2 linked regions of the Homo sapiens genome follow. The protein of the gene in region 1 purifies or fractionates together with the protein of each later gene. This does not show direct contact. Each region holds a gene or a part of one and is shown on either strand. Other genes may lie near its edges.

Region 1 (8,336 bases):
GCCTGTTTTACTTCTCCACACCCGTTTAAGTCAAAGAGGTTTAAAAAAAATCTTAACATTAAAATAAATATGCAGTGGCCATGAGAATGGTCAAAATGCTTCAAAAAACACTAGGGCTGGGGAGCCCAGGGTGGGGCGTGGGGTTTCCTTTGGCATAAGGAGAGGAGGCTGCTTGTCCCCCAGGCTTCCTCACAGCCACATATGGAGGGACAGAGGACTCCCCACCACCTCCCAGCACTGCTGACAGTGCGCTGAGGGCAGCAGGGCGCAGACAGCCCCCAGAAATCTCATCTAGCAAGACAACGGGGCTCTGACACTCAGACGCTTCCCGCCATCACCAAACATCACGAAAGGAGAACACGACTCACACCCGGCAAGTTCTCTCTGGAGGACCCATCTTCTCACTCCCCTTGCCCCCCACCACCTAATTCCCAGCACCAAGATGAGAGGGAGGGGGTGGAATGGGAAGATTTCAGGAGAGAGAATTGAAGGGAAGGCAAGCTTTGCAGAGCCAGCAGGGTTGGGGATGGGGGCTGCAGCCCTTAAGAGAGGTCACATTGATTGTCATATAGGGGAGGACACGGTGTGGAGGGAGGTGGGCAAGAGGGGCGTCACAAGGCCCTTTGGCTTTGAAAATAAAAATAAAAACTAAAAGCTGCACAATCCTTCTCATCAATAATGGTCATTTGGAAGCCTTGAAATGATTTAGGAACTGAGGGTTGGGAGAAGCAAAACACAGAGAGACAGGGGATCAAAAGGGACCATGAAAAGATAAGGACTTGGACAACACCCCAGGCTTCTGGAAACCAGCATGAGGTATGGTTAAAGGTATCCGTTGGGGAGGGAGGGGGTCCCTGGGACGCCCCCCTCCCCTCAGCCCACCCTTGACAAGGGTGGCAAGACATTCAGGGTATACAACTAAAAGATGGGTAAGACTGTGAATAAAGCAAACTTGAGTAGGGGAGGGAGGCTGAAGGATCCCCCCTCAGGGGAGACCCTGTACTGTGTAAACGAAGCCTGTCCAGTTCTCAGGGGACAATACTGATGGCAGCCAAACTGGGCAAGGATGCAGTGTGGGGGCGGAGGGGGCATGACCTCTATTCAAGTTCTGTGTCTTGGCCCCTGGCTGAGGTATTGAGTGTGAGGAAGGGAACACTGGGCTGCAGGAGTGGGTCCAACTGTCCAGGAGGCTGCACTAGGAGATGGGTGGACAGAGCACTTAAAGGGACCAGGGCCAAATTCAATGCTACATTTAGAGAGAAAACTGCCCCCTCTTCACTCCAGCCCAGTTTGGCTTTTGGGGTGCGACTTTAGAAATCTTATCAGTGCAGCCCCCAGCTCAATCCCATCTTTCCTCCCTGCTGGGAAGGCAGGGACCAAGCCCCAGTACCTATTCATCTCTCTCTAGGTCAGAGCTTCTTCCTCACACTGGAGGGGAAGCCTGGGTCCCGAGTAGCCACGGTCCCTTGTCGGCCCTGCCCCTCCTACCATCTTTGGCTTCAGATCAGGAGTGACTGGGGCAGTGGGTACTCTTGGACATAACGGAAGGTGGAGGCAGATAGGGAGCACAGATAAACTATGGGCTTGGCGGCACAGGAGGAAGAACATGGTCCCTCCCTCCATATACATGCAAACACATGCCTGAAACACAGTGGACATACTAGGGCTGTGGTTTTGAAATGGGCAGGAAATTAATTTGTTTCTTCCCCTAAAGGATAAAACGCTTACTTAAAAATTCATGACAAGCCTCAAAGTTCAAGGGAAGGAGAGCCAGGGCAGGAATGACCACAGGCTCTGCCCTCCCAAAAGAAGATAAAAGAAAGAAGCAAGGTTAAAGTGCGTGGTTAGGGGCCAGGCTAGGAGTGGGAGGGAATGGGGAGGGGGCAGGCTGTGGGGGCAGAACCAGCCCTTGATTTGCATATGAGGAGCCAGGGGAGAGTGCAGGATTGGGGCCCAGGTACAGTAGTTGCTGCTTCAAGTGTTTTGCATTTGAACTTTAGGGGTGATAGGGTACAGAAGTGGGGAAAAAGCTCCAGGCCCCAGTGCTAAATATCCTCCCCCCTCATCCTCTAGCTGCCCCTGAAGGGGGGAGGGGGACACCCCCAGAGTGCTCACACAGTACCAGAAATTAAGGCTTCTCACTGCTGCGGGGATGGAGGGACCGGCCGAGCAGGGAGGCAGTGATGGGTATGGAAGAAGAGGGGATCTGCCTGGCAGTAGGGGCAGGGGAGAAGGGGGACACAGAGAGGAGTCCCCAGGGAAGAGTCGGGGGAGCTGGCAGCAGAAAGAGGGAACCAAGAGATGGAGTCAAAGAGTGGGGGAGCCAGGCATTTAGCAATCATTTTGGGACACTTGGCAGAAGGGGTCGCCCTGGGGGTACCAAGGGCCTGGGGTGCTCCCTGTCAGTCCCAGACCCCTGCCAGGCCAAGATGGTGTGGCAAAGGGGTGAGCAGCTGCTCCCCAGGGCTTCCTTCCCCTCCGCCCCCTCCACCCAGTCGTGTTCTCCTTTAAAGTGCCCTAAATGTTTAGACTTTTTCTAAATAAATAGAATTAGATATCAAGCCACCGGCGGGGGAGGGACACTGGAGGGGGCTACTCAGAGTAGCAGCCATCTAACCCAATGGCGCCGGGCCGCTCCTGGCTGTAGGGGCAGGAGGCCCCATGGGGCAGGGCGCCGCAGCCACCCACCGTCTTGGCGGCTGCAATGCTGCAGTTCTTGAGCAGGCTGAAGCTGAAAGGACTGACGGCGTCCTTGGGTGGGAAAGGCTTCATGGTGGAAAGGATCAAGGCCAGGCAGTCTGCCACATCTTTGTTGGGGGCACAGGCCAGTGCTGGGGTGTGACCTGCAGGGCCAAGGGGGAGAACTGAGGCATAGAGTCCTGTATCCTAGCCAGCCTCCCCCAAGCCCTGAAGTCTCTTCTCTGTGGAGGGAGCCAAGGCAGGCAGGTACCCAGCAGCGGCAGAATCCAAGGGTGACGAGGGCCCAGGAAGGCTGACAGGCAGATTCTCTAAGTACGGGTTAAAGGGCGGGCATGGGAGTCAAAGCCTAGGGTGTGGAGTCCTCCTGACCCTGCAGGCTCCCCTCTGAGACTCCAGAGTACTGGTGTGGGCTCCCTGCTCTGAAGAGTTCCCTTGGGAAGAAAATCCCATGTATAGCAAGATTAAGAAGTCACCTCCTGAAGAATGTCCCTGACCCCAAACCCAAGAGAGGCATGGGGCCCCAGACCCCACCCACCTTCTTCATCCACAGCCAGCACTGTGGCCCCATGACTCAGCAGGGCCTGTACCACAGAAGCTAGACCATTCCGGGCAGCAATGTGGAGTGGCCTTGGAAAAAAGGAAAAAGAAGGAGCTTGATGCTAAGCTGCCCTTCCACCTCCAGACAGGGTGGCAAGGGTGCTGAACAAATACAATGGGCTCCAGAGAGCCTCTGAACAGCGGCCACTCTTTCATCACCCACTGGCCTCCCCCAGCCAGGAGCCCCCTTCCCCAGGCACTCACATCTGCAGCGCACTGTTGGTAGCATTGATAAGGCCAAGGTCTTGGGTTTCTGCCAGGATCATGAGGGCACATTTCTCATGGCCCTGAGGGAGGGGAACAGAGAGTGGAGACTTGTGAAGTAGAAATGTGGCAGGGTGCAGGGCAGGAGTTGGGGAGAGTAACAGGAGGACAAACAGCTGCCCAACCAGTCGGATAGGCTGGACAATCCTCACTTCTGCCCCAGTCCCCTCTGCAACCGAGACTTACCTCTCTTCATCAAGCTCTGCCCCTTATGCAGTCCCCCAATCACTTCAGGTAAGTACCTTGCTACAAGCCAAGTGGAGGGCCGTGTTCTTGTTCTCATCCAACACAGTAAGGTCTGCCTTCCCTCGATACAGCAGAAATTCTACGAGAGAAATGTGATAGAGGGACTGACCCCTCCCTCCAGAGCAGTAGCCATCCTGGCTCTCCACTTTGCATCCCGTCTGCAGATGGCGAGACATCCAAAGACAACCCTCTTGCTTTCTGAACCCCAGCCCCAGCCAGCCTCCACAGGCAGGGCTGACCCATCCTGCAAATGCCCCAGGGGAGCTCCTCCCTTCCACAAGTGGCCCCTACACACCCACAGCAGCGGTCTGCCCGTTCTCAGCCGCCGTCATGAGCGCAGTGCGGCCAGTGTGGTCAGTGGCGTTCACCTCAGCTTGATGCTGCAGCAGCATCCGGAGCCCAGAGACATTGTCCGCGAAGGCAGCGGCGTGAAGGGGGGTCCTGTAAGGCAGGGATCAGGGTAGATTAAAATAGGGAAGAGTATACTGCCCAAGCAGAAAGGGGAAGCCAGAGGCAACTGGGATTCTTCCCAAGTCTTCCATCACTCACCGTCCTTTGGCATCTCGGCTGTTCACAATCTTGGCACCCAGAGCTCCCAGTAGCATCTCTGTGGTGCTGTCTTGGTTATTAATCCTAGAGGAAGAGGGAGGAGGGGTCATCAGGAAGGACAAGGGAAGTAGACTACCTGTCCTAAGCTCAAGTCATGGGCCCTCGCGAGAAGGGCTGATGCAGCAGAAGGGACTTACACTGCACAGTGCAAAGGAGTGAAGGGGTTTCCTTCCAGGTACGAAAACGGGCTGTGTTCAAGTAACAACTCCAGACAATCTTCATGTCCTGGGCACGAGGAAGGAAGAGTAGTGATGGAGAAAAACGGCAAGGTTCCCTGTCTGTCCTGTGTCTTGACACTCCATTCCACTTCCAGATTCAGATCAACCCAGGTCCCCCCCAACAACCCACCTGTCCCCCTCTACACACACTCCAACACATGCTCCTGTGCCTGTGGAGGCCCCAGTCTAGTACCAGTGTAGGAGGCCCAGTGCATGGGCGAGTATCCGCTGTAATCCACCCCGGCATCCAGGGGATCTGTGGAAAGGGCAGCCTGCAGCAGGGTCCGCAGTACTGCAGTGTGGCCACAGGCTGAGGCCAGGTGAATGGGCGTGCGGCCCTTAAAGTCTCGGCACAGCACAAATGCGTCGTGGTCCAGCAGGGCAGCCAGGCAGTCCTCACAGCCAGTCACTGCCTGTGAGTAACATGGGGGTGTGAGGGGGATGAAAAGCTCCTCCTTTTCCACTGGCCTGTTGCTGGAGTCTGGCTCAGGAGTAAGAACCACTTCCAGGGCTCCAATCCTTGTCTTTTTTTTTTTTTTTTTTTTTTTGGAGTCGGAGTCTTGCTCTGTCGCCCAGGCTGGAGTGCAGTGGCATAATCTCGGCTCACTGCAACCTCTGCCTCCCCGGTTCAAGCGATTCTCCTGCCTCAGCCTCCCAAGTAGCTGGGATTACAGGCAGGTGCCACCATGCCCGGCCAATTTTTTTGTATTTTTAGTAGAGACAGGGTTTCACCACGTTAGCCAGGATGGTCTTGATCTCCTCACCTCGTGATCCGCCTGCCTCGGCCTCCCAAAGTGCTGGGATTACAGGCATGAGCCACTGGCCTCAATCCTTGTCTTTACAACAATAATTCTTTCTTTTTTTGAGACGGAGTCTCACTCTGTCACCCAGGCTGGAGTGCAATGGTGCGATCTTGGCTCACTGCAACCTCTGCCTCCCAGGTTCCAGCAATTCTCCTGTCTCAGCCTCCCAAGTAGCTGGGATTATAGGCATGCACCACCATGCCCAATTAATTTTTGTATTTTTAGTAGAGGCGAAGTTTCACCATGTTGGCCAGGCTGGTCTCAAACTCCTGACTTCAGGTGATCTGCCCGCCTTGGCCTTCCAAAGTGCTGGGATTACAGACGTGAGCCACCATGCCCGGCCCTTTACAACAACAATTCTAAGTATTAGGGACCCACATCTCCCTCCTTGACTCTCTCTATGCCAGCAGACAATCAGGATACTAAGAGTTAATACTGGAGCTCTGGAGTTAATACTGGAAAGACTAAATGGAGAGAAGGAGACTAAGGGATCAAAAAATCTTATGGGAGGAGGAGGCAGCTTAGGACAGGTGGTCACGGAAGAGGATCTAGGTTGTGGCGACATTATGCGATGGGTTGGGGCCAGCAGGGTATCCCAGGTAGAGTCTGGGTGGTGAGCACTCAGTTGTACGTGATTACAAAGCACAGATATTGGCCAGGCACAGTGGCTCACGCCTGTAATCCCAACCCTTTGGGAGGCCAAGGCGGGTGGATCTCATCATCAGGAGATTGAGACTACCCTGGCTAACACGGTGAAACCCTGTCTCTACTAAAAATACAAAAATTAGCCAGGCGTGGTGGCAGGCGCCTGTAATCCCAGCTACTCGGGAGGCTGAGGCAGGAGAATTGCTTGAACCCAGGAGGCGGAGGTTGCAGTGAGCCGAGATCACGCCACTGCACTCCAGCCTGGGTGACAGAGCGAGACTCTATCTCAATAATAATAATAATAATAATAATAATAATAATAATAATAATAATAATAATAATAAACAAAGCACAGATATCAGGGAAATCAGCTGGGGACGTCAGGAACTCATCCTGGAGCAAGCACAAAGCTCAATAAAATCCTGGGCACAGCGTGGGTCTGGTGGCTCATGCCTGTAATCCCAGCACTTCGGGAGGCCAAGGTGGGGGGATCACTTGAACCCAGGAGTTCAAGACCAGCTTGGGCAAGATGGTAAGACCCCCATATCTACAAAAAATACAAAAATTAGCTGGGCATGATGGCATGTGCCTACAGTTTCAGCTACTTAGGAGGCTGAGGTGCGAGAATCACCTGAGCCCAGGAAGTCAAGGCTGCAGTGAGCTGTGATAGTGTCACTGCACTCCAACCTGGGCAATGGGAGTGAGACCCTGTCTCAAAAAAAAAAAAAAAAAAGAAAAAGAAAAAAGACGGCACAAAATCCTGGCTTGCCTCCTAGACAATTGGATTCCCTACTGCTGGTGAGTCCCATGCTCCCACACTGAGGCCCATGTGCAAACAATCCCCCCTAGAAGCTCACTCACCCCGCGGTGGAGGGCAGTGCGGCCCCGGAGGTCAGCAGCATCAGCTGTGGATCCTTTCTCTAGCAGCAGATGTACACAGTCCACATGGCCATTCATGATGGCCAGCATCAGTGGGGTCCTACAGAAGGGCAGGAGGAGGAGTGAGGATCCCGCAAGGACTGGAAAACCTGCACCCCACCCTGGCCCACACTCACTGTCCATAGGCATCCATGACATCTGTGATGTCAGCTCGTTCCCCACTGTCGATCAGCAAGTGCAGGGAGTCAGTGTGGCCAGAGGCAGCTAGGGGAAAGGGACCCCGTGTCAGGGCAGGGCCAGGAGGAAGAAGGGAGGCAAGGTCAAGCCTAAAGGACTTGGGGTCAATGTTACAGAAAGACCTGGGCCAGGGAGAAATCTCTGAGGATAGGAAGCTATGAATCAGGGCTTGAAGTCTCCATTCTCCTCACCCTACTCCACTTTCCAGCCCCATTCCCATCCAGGAGGGATCTGGCATGGCAAGGGTAGGGCAGCAGCCTAAAGTGGGCACTAACCAGCAGCGTGCAGGGGTGTCCACTTGCGCTTGCGCTCCTTGATGAGGGCAGAGGCGCCGTGGGCTGTAAGCACCTCCACACACTCAGTAGAGCCGCGCTCCGTGGCCAGGAAGAGTGCGGTCCGGCCCTTGTGGTCCCTTACGTCCAGATTCACCAGCGTCTCCGCCAGCGTCTTCAAGGCTTCACAGTGACCGTTGTAGGCCTGGCAAGGTGCAGGCAACCAGTGCACACAGCTCGGGACCTTCCCTGCTCCTCCCTTCCCCTTCTCTGCTCTTGGGGTCCCTGGGAAGCTCAAGGTCTTAGTCCTTGACAAGCTCCTTGGGCCCCTTAAGGCTTCCTACCCTGCACTGTGCTTATCCCCTCTCCCACAAAAAGGCAGAAGGAAGGATAACTTCACAAGTGCTGGCACCTTTGTTAGGGCCTGGGAACAGGTAGGACAAGGAAGGCAACAGAAAAAAGACGTGGGACTCACAGCTAAGTGCAAAGGGCTGACTGGAATGGTGCTCTCCACATCCTCCAGGCAGTTAAAGGACATTTCTAAGAGCTGCAAAGGACAGGAAAGTAGGTGCTGAGACTCTGGAACTCCCAAGATAGTACCCCAGTCCCCGACTCGCAGTAATCCCCACTAAGCCTCTGGATCCAAAGACCACATTTGATTGAACCCTTAGTTTTGGAATCCACAAACCCTGTGCCCTGCCCCTGCCTCCCCTCCTGCAGGCCGGGCCCCAACACATACCAGTTCGAGGTTCTGTCTGTTGCCATAGGCGGCTGCATAGTGCACAGCTGTGTAGCCCTGCCTGTCCCGCAGGGAGGGGTCTGCACCGTTATCCAGTAAGAACTCCAGACAGCTGGGGAGCCGGGGG
Region 2 (8,336 bases), on another chromosome or scaffold:
AGTGGATTCATTCTTCAGATCAGCTGCCCTGTGTTGGAATTAGGTATTGTGAACAATTGGCAAAGGAGCAGTTCACAGCATCTGAGATGATATCTGAAGGAAAGGTTGGGTTGAAGCGTGTTGTCAAGTGAATTCCTCTTGGAGGTTTAAGTTTCAGAGACAGCTTCAGGGAAGGAGCACAGAATGCATTTGTGGATAAGGTACCTCCCCTTCCTGGTAGGAAATGAACGTCAGCTGTGTGGGTCTGGCTGGAGGACAGAGCCCACTGCTAGGTCAGTCTTCTGGCTGTGTACCCTGTGTGCTCTTGCAGAAGGAAAAGGCCCTGTGTTGGTGGGAAGAGGAGGACATGGTTGTGTTGTGTGGCTTCGTGAGTGGAATCAGCCAGGGGACGCAGCCTTAGCTTAACAAGCATTTCAGTGCGTTCTTCGTAGTTGATTTCAGAAGCTCACAGCCTTGAAACTTGTCCAGCTGAGTGCTTGCTTGTGCCCTGCTCCTTGCTAGGAAGACTTGAGTTAGCTGGCCTTTTAAAAATACTTCAAAAACTTCTAAAGGTTTGGGAAACAAACGTTCATGTGAAGGAGCCATATGGGCTGATAGCGAGGCTTGCCCCAAGCCTGGCCAGTCTCTGATTGCCCTGCAAGGCCTTTTTTATGTTCATCCCAGAGGCTGAAGCCCAGCTAGGGTGGACCTTGTGGTGACTTCAGAGCTAGATGGGACCAGATCAGTCATCCAGCAAACTGCCACATGTTGCAGATAAGGAAACGGGATGGGAGAAGAAGAGAGATCTTCTTTCTGCTGCCTGTTTTCCAGCCCACCCTCAGGAGGAGGAAGTGGACTTTTCTGTCCGTAATTCAGTTTCAGTCAACATGCCTTTGTCAAGTTCCTACTGTATGCCAGGTGTTAGGCCTGTAACTGTGAACGGGCCACAGACTCTGCCTCCAGGGGCTTGGGGTCGGCTGGGGAAGCAGATGGGCAGTGCAGGGGAATGGGTACAGGGTGCTAGAAGAGGGGAGCCTTCCATTAGGCCTCTTTGTAGAGGCAGGTGGGTATGAGGCTGAAGGACCCGTAGGGATTTGCCCGTGCGAGAGAGAAAACAGCTAATCCAAATGCCCAGAACGTGCTGTTTTGCATGGCTCGGGGATGAGGTGGCGGGAGCGAAGGCCAGAGGCCAGATCAGGAGTTGTATTCTGAAGGTTGTAGGGAGCCCTTGAGGATTTGACTAAGAAGATCATTATTGGTTCTGTTTCAAGACATTCATGGCAACAGTGAAAAATGGACGAGAAAACGCATGGTAGAGACAGGAGAACCATGAAGACATTGAACTGTTACACATGAGAAATAATGAGAACTGCAAGATGGGCTCCAGGCAGCAGGGAGGTGTGAGGAGGAGACAGGGCAGATGCCCTGATCTGTTGGCTCTGGAATCTGTAGGGTTTGTTGTTGTTGTTGTTGGTTTTTTTAATGTACAGTTCAAGGTTGGGTGCAGTGGCTCAGGCCTGTAATCCCAGCACTTTCTGGAGGCCGAGTCAGGCGGATCACTTGAGGCCAGGAGTTCGAGACCACCCTGGCCAACAGGGTGAAACCCTGTCTCTACTGAAAAAAAAAAAAAAAAGCTGGGCATGGTGGCATACACCCATAGTCCCAGCTACTCGGGAGGCTGAAGCAGGAGAATCGCTTGAACCTGGGAGATGGAGCTTACAGTGAGCCAAGATCATGCTGTGCACTCCAGCCTGGGCGACAGAGTGAGACTCCATCTGGGGAAAAAAAAAAAGTACAGTTCAGTAGTATATTCACACTGTTGTGTAACAGGTCTTTAAAACTTTTTCATCCTAAACTAAAACTCTGTACCCATTAAACAATTCCTCATTTCTACTTCCCCAGTCCCTAGCAGCCTCCATTCTACTCTCTGTTTCTCTGGGGTTGACTAGTCTAGGGATCTCATATAAATGGAATCATACAGTATTTATCTTTGTGACTGGCTTGTTTCCCTTAGCATAATGTCTTCAGAGTTCATCCCTGCTGTGGTGTATACAGGATTTCCTTTTGTTCGAAGGCCGAATGACATTCTGGAATCTTTGGTTCTTTTAGCAGGCTGGGTATGGTTAAGTGACAGGGAGGGAAACACACTTGGCTGGACTGCGTGCCGCTGCTGCTGTGACTGTGGGCCTGGGTGTAGGGATAAGCAGCGAGGAGGCGAGCACCCTGGATGAGGTTCGCGTTTACCTACCTCCCGGGGTTAAGTGTGGCAGGGAACCAGGCCTCCTGCTTCTCTGTTCCTTGGGAAAGACAGCTTTTGCATCTTCAGATCTCTGGAGACACAAGTGGGTAGGGTTGGGGAAGATTCTCTCTCAGGGCTTCAGGGCTACAGGGTTGCCCCAGAGAGCCTCTGCCATTCCACCAGTCTCTGTGGCTTCTGTTGGAGGTTTTGTGGACATTCAGAATCATTTAAAATGTTACACGGACTCTGAGGAGCTCATCTGGGAAAGACTATCTCAAAGAGATAACAGAAAAGTCATTTGTGTGTAATATAATTTAGTTGTAGAGTAGAACTCAGATAGAATGATTCCAGAGCTTTGCATAGAGTGGGCAGGCAAAAATAACTGTCAAGTTGACTTTTTGGAGGTTTCAGGTGAGATTTTCAAACATTCAAGCATTTATTCCTTCTTGGTGTCAGTGGAGCCCTGTGACACTCACACAGGTAGGTGGGCAAGAAGCATGGAGCGCACCCTAATTAAATGCCTACTCTGTGCAGGCCCTCCTGTGATCTTTGCTAAGTGAATAGTCATTATGAAATCAAACAGATGAAGTCAGATATCTTGGGGAAAGTCACAGTCAAGTCTGTCTTTAAACTCAGAACATTTCTATTCTACACGGGTACTTCTTAATCTTAGTCACTTGTGTCTGGGTTAAGCCCTTAAATAACTTATACCAGTTTCCCTAGCATTCCTTCCTGCAACCTAGAGATTCCTAATTATGATAATATCCCTGATGGAATGCAGTGGTTCCCACATCTGGCTTGTCCCCAGCAAAGAATTGAGGATTCAGCACTCTGTGAAGGAAAAGCATGGTGTGCAGTTAGAGCAGATCCACAGTGACCTGACTTCATCAGAAGGGACACATGTCTGAGGAGGTGACATTTAAGGAGAGACCTGCAGATTAGACCCAAACTTGGCCAGCAGGCAGCATAGTAAGAAGAGCCCCACAGACCGTAAGTGTGCTCAAGCAAGTCCTGCCGCTTCAGCCTCTGAGGCCAGACCTGGTTCTGCAGGACTTAGGAAGCCTAACTGCAGTGCACTGCAGGGAGCCCGCAGAATGGGCGAAGTGCAGTCAGACCCGGACTGGGAAGCATTAAGGTTATTTCTAGTTTATTGGAGTTGAATAATCAACATGTTCTTTTTTTAGAAAAATAACCTTTTTACTTTTGAATAATTTAGATTTATAGAAACATTGCCAAGATAGTAAGTCTCCATATATCCTTCACTTAGCTTCCCCAAGTATGAATACAGCCATGGTACATTTGTCAAAACTAAGAAATTAACATTAATCCCTCTTTGTGCATGTAGCTTTGAATCTCTGTGTAGTATTTCTTTTGGAACAGTTGTTAGAAATGGGAGGTTTGAGGCCAGGCGCGGTGGCTCACGCCTGTAATCCCAGCACTTTGGGAGGCCAAGGCGGGCGGTTCACGAGGTCGGGATATTGAGACCATCCTGGCTAACACAGTGAAACCTGTCTCTACTAAAAATACAAAAAATTAGCCAGGCGTGATGGCGGGTGCCAGTAATCCCAGCTACTCAGGAGGCTGAGGCAGGAGAATGGCGTGAACCCGGGAGGCGGAGCTTGCAGTGAGCGGAGATCGTGCCACTGCACTCCAGCCTGGGCGACAGAGCGAGACTCCATCTCAAAAAAATAATAATAAAAAGAAATGGGAGGTTTGAGAATGTGGGATCATTGTTAGAGTGCCCTCCAGGTGGCTGTGCCCTGTCCGCTCCTGCCCTCATTGGTGAGAGTGTCTTTCTCCCACAGCTCCAGTCTCTTTTGCTAATGTGTTTTTGATAAATACCTTGTGGTACATGAAACGACTGAAGTGTTTTCCAAATAGAATTTCTCCCCTCTTTTTAGCACCCAACTGGTCAGCTAACTTTGATGTCCCAATGGAAACAACCCACGGTGCTCCATTGGATTCTGTGGGATCTGATGTCTGGAGCACAGAGGAGCCGATGCCAACTAAAGAGACGGGCTGGGCTTCTTTTTCAGAGTTCACGTCTTCCCTGAGGTGAGCGAACATGTGCTGTCTCTACACCCTTCCACGGGGGACCTGGGAATGGTCAGGTGTTTGCTGTTAACGTGTGTTCTTCACCTTGACTGACTTCCAAGTTGAATATACTGCCCTGAAAAAGATTAAACATCAGCATACTAACACAGCTCTGTGTTGTAAGAAGAACAATCACCATCTTCCTTTCCTTTCCTCCTGGATTAATTGGAAATGGGAGTAGTTCTTGAACAAAGTAGCTTGTGAGGATGCGGTCCCAGGGAGTTAGCAGGACGCAGCAGAAGATGCATCTCCGTGAGCTTTTCTGGCTTCATAGAGCTGTCAGGACAGAATTGAGGAGAAGAGGAATGAGGTGAAGCCAAGAAATCCTGACAGGCACAGCACCTCTGTGTGGGGTGTGGCAGGCAAACAAAATGGATCTTGAATTCAGTAGATAATATGAACTTACAGTTCACTTGCAGCTAGTCCAGTGCTGTCAATTAAGGGCTCCCAATCATTGGTAACTCGGAAGATAGGAAGACAAGCTGTTTTGGGCTGACAGTTAGTGTCTTAGACAAACCAAAGAATAGGCTGAAACCCATGTTGCTTTGTAGTAACCATAGTAATAGCATTAAGTTACTACTCAGAGGTACAAGTGAGATTTGTGAAAAATGTCTCCAAAATAATGAGTTATTTCGTCTACCCCGCTTTTCAGTACAGGACATACATTTCCGCCTACTCCTTTTTTTGGTCTGTTTATAACCCGAGGATAAGAGCCTTTGGTTACTTGAGGGTGTGATTGAAGCAGCTTGCTTCTCTTTACCCTCTGTGTGCACGTCTCTGAGTTTGTGGGAATGAGGGATAAAAGAGGAAGTGTAATGATCTCCCTCACCCCTACCCCTTACTGCTCAGGCATTTGGTGTTTTTTTACTATGTTTCCACAGTTCCAACAACAAATATCATTAAGAGGGCCAGTCTCTCCCAGGCAGTGTGGCTGAAAATAAGTAAAGGTTTTTGTAAAACCAGTCAACCTGATAAATACCGTTGCCATTGCACAATGTACGTCTTTGCTGTTCAAGCTCTGGGAGCCTCCTAGTGACTATGGTGGGATGAGAAGTTGGGACATGATGAGCCTGTCTAGAATGCTTTACAAAGTCCCTGTCTTACTGCCTTGCTGGCTTAACAGAACATTTGCCTGCCCGCACTCATGTCCTTCTTCAAACAGCTACTGGCACTTAGATCCATGTGTCACTGGAGTTTGTAACCCAGTGACTCTTACACAGATGCTAATGTCTCCTAACAAAAACTTACTTGTAAAGGCTTATTGTGAATCTTGGGGTAACTGAGGACCATTCCCTGCTGCTAATATCTGAATTTTCTCTTTTTTGAAAGCACAAAAGATTCTTTAAGGAGTAATTCTCCAGTGGAAATGGAAACCAGCACTGAACCCATGGACCCTCTGACTCCCAGTGCGGCTGCCCTGGCAGTGCAGCCAGAAGGTGCGTGCAGAGAGGCCTGGGTACACGCCAGGGTCACGTGGCTGCTTTGTCAAACCAGACCTGATTCTCAGGCTCAGGGGCTAGTGGAGCCCGGGAGTGAGATGGTGGGTCTGATGTCCACAGGGCAGCTGATGAAAGAAATTGTGCCTGTCCTTCTAGAACCACAGCATGCTGACTCTGGAAAGAGTAAGGGCTCTAAGTTACCAGGCATGCAGTGTGCAGATTAGGAAACTGAGGTCTAGAGGGAAGAAGGCCTAAGCCCATAGTACCCAGGGTGAATAAAACTGGAATTAGACGTGTGCAGCCAAGCCTGTGTGTAGTTGTCCCTTGGAGTTTGCTTTGCTCAAGCATGTAGGTGTATCTGGGTTTGTTTAGAGCTATGGGGCTGGTTATTTTCACTTCGCCATTGTAAGCAGATTGAATAGTCCTGGGAATCTCTAAAGTTCCAGTGGGTTTTCCTATTACTCTACCTAGTCAAATGTGTTCCTTGCACGGCCCTGAACTGTTTTCACCTTGATGGACGGGGCTTTGGGAGGAGGGGGATGCTAGCAAAGGGAGTGTGATGGGAACCAAAAGGATGTGGAGGGCACGAATCATGAGGTGGGCTTAAGGAGTGAGTTCTTAGAAAATGAAATGAGGTTTTGGTAGAGGGTGTGAGAACCCTCCTTCCCAGGGGCAAGGGAAAGGAATAAAACCAATAACTAATGCTGGTTTCATCATCCTCCTGAACATTTGATACAGATTCCCGCATTTGACTCCTCAGTGGTTCTGTAAGTGGGTGCACTGATCCCCTTTCCTGGATGAGGAAACTCAGGTTATAGATGAGGTTCCTTGTCCAAGTAGTCTACAGCTAGGAAGTGGTGATGTCGATGTTTGAATCCAGGAAGCCTCACCTCAGCCAGGCTCATCACCTATGTTGGCTTCCCATTAGAGAACAAAGAAACGATCCACCAGCAACACCACAAGAAAGTAATTTTTAAAACAAAGCAAAGCAAATAGAGCCCAACTGAGGAAAACAAGTGAGTAGAGGGTAGAGTGTGTAACTGCCTGCTCTGCCCCACACTGGAACAGTTAGGAGCACAAGTGTCTGCTGGGAGAAGCTGGGTATGGAGGTGGACGCTGAGCTGGGAGGGATGTAGGCGACTTGCTAGTCTCTAGTAAAGAAAACCCATGAAACCCCTCTTTAGTGGGCATCTTTAAGAAGTCTCTCCCCATCAAGAATGTGGCCCAGACAACAGCAGGCAGAAGCCATCTCACTCTTTTTTTTCTTCAAGCAGTAGATGTCACGTTGGGTAGATGGGTTTGTACAGTGGTGGGGTGCCAGTTCCTTTTCGGGCTTGCTGTGTGTGACCATCAGCTGTGTTCTTTTCAGCGGCAGGCAGTGTGGCCATGGAAGCCAGCTCTGACGGAGAGGAGGATGCAGAAAGTACAGACAAGGTAACTGAGACAGTGATGAATGGCGGCATGAAGGAAACGCTCAGCCTCACTGTAGATGCCAAGACAGAGACTGCGGTCTTCAAAAGGTAACCAGGGGTGAGATCCTGCTGGTAGCTTCAGGTTATTGGGAGGATGGTGGGGCAGAAACCTCAAACATTAAAATTTTTAATTTGATTCAAATGAATGTTCAGATACTAGCTTGATGTCTTTCTGTTGTCTCCATTAAACACAATAAATCTTAATGAAGAGATGGAGAGTTTAGGCCCCTAAGTGCCTTTTCCCCCATAAATGTGTTCAGAAGACTGTATTTTACATCTAGCAGTTTGATAGAACTATGAGAATTGATAAATCTTTAATCACAATAGAAATTGGCTTGTGTAACAGGCTACAGAGCATGGCCCATGAAAACCGGTTTCAGGTCGACTGGTTTTACAAAAACCTTTACTTATTTTCAGTAACATACAGATGATTATCTCAGGACATAATGCAGTCATGAAAATTCAGTAGCAAAATGATAGCTTTAAAAGAACGTGACCCTTAGAAATTCACTTCTAAACTCAAAAAAGGAATTGTAATGGATATTAAAAACCTAAAACTGAGAGAATAATGGGAAAAATGTCTGTCAAAACTTAAGGACTGAAGCTAAGCCTGTGCTTAGAGCTTTAGTCTTAGAGACCATTCCAGCCATTACAAGAAGGAATGCCTCCCTGCTTATTGCGAGGTCACTACAAAACAAGGAGTGAAAGAAGAAAACTGACTGTAGACTGATTTCATACATGAGCAATTATTCTCAAAACTTAAGTTAAAAGCTAGCAAACCAAATGTAGCAATGTATTTTAAAGTCATGACCAAGGATATGTGCTCCAGTGACACAATGTAAACACCAGTGTGTACATGGTAAAAATTATTCAGAGTAATTCCCAGACAAAAGGAGAAAAGCATTTGATTACAAATTAAAGCTGTTCATGATTTTCTTTGCAGCCTAGGAATAGAAAGTAAATAGGTGAAACTGGTAAGTATCTCTAGAAAATCTAGAGTAGACTTGATTCTTCAGTGAGGCATTAGAAGTATTCCCTTTAAAGACAAGAACCAGAAAGTGGGACCTACAGTTGCTATTTGTCTTCAGCACTGTGCTGGTGGCCTTAGCAAAT

What was found.
Region 2: the proteins of ANKRD52 (region 1) and PPP6R3 purify together in Homo sapiens (affinity purification with mass spectrometry; 2 studies listed by BioGRID and IntAct, with this or other methods). This does not show direct contact.

What each region holds. Positions count from the first base shown.
Region 1 is NC_000012.12:56,240,550-56,248,885, forward strand, and holds part of ANKRD52 (serine/threonine-protein phosphatase 6 regulatory ankyrin repeat subunit C), read right to left. Parts: intron 8,322-8,336; coding exon 8,210-8,321; intron 8,018-8,209; coding exon 7,946-8,017; intron 7,676-7,945; coding exon 7,474-7,675; intron 7,226-7,473; coding exon 7,138-7,225; intron 7,062-7,137; coding exon 6,944-7,061; intron 5,048-6,943; coding exon 4,828-5,047; intron 4,642-4,827; coding exon 4,554-4,641; intron 4,441-4,553; coding exon 4,357-4,440; intron 4,249-4,356; coding exon 4,103-4,248; intron 3,887-4,102; coding exon 3,804-3,886; intron 3,585-3,803; coding exon 3,502-3,584; intron 3,328-3,501; coding exon 3,236-3,327; intron 2,844-3,235; coding exon 2,593-2,843; 3' UTR 1-2,592. UniProt on the Homo sapiens protein: Putative regulatory subunit of protein phosphatase 6 (PP6) that may be involved in the recognition of phosphoprotein substrates.
Region 2 is NC_000011.10:68,596,222-68,604,557, forward strand, and holds part of PPP6R3 (serine/threonine-protein phosphatase 6 regulatory subunit 3), read left to right. Parts: intron 1-4,119; coding exon 4,120-4,273; intron 4,274-5,641; coding exon 5,642-5,748; intron 5,749-7,120; coding exon 7,121-7,271; intron 7,272-8,336.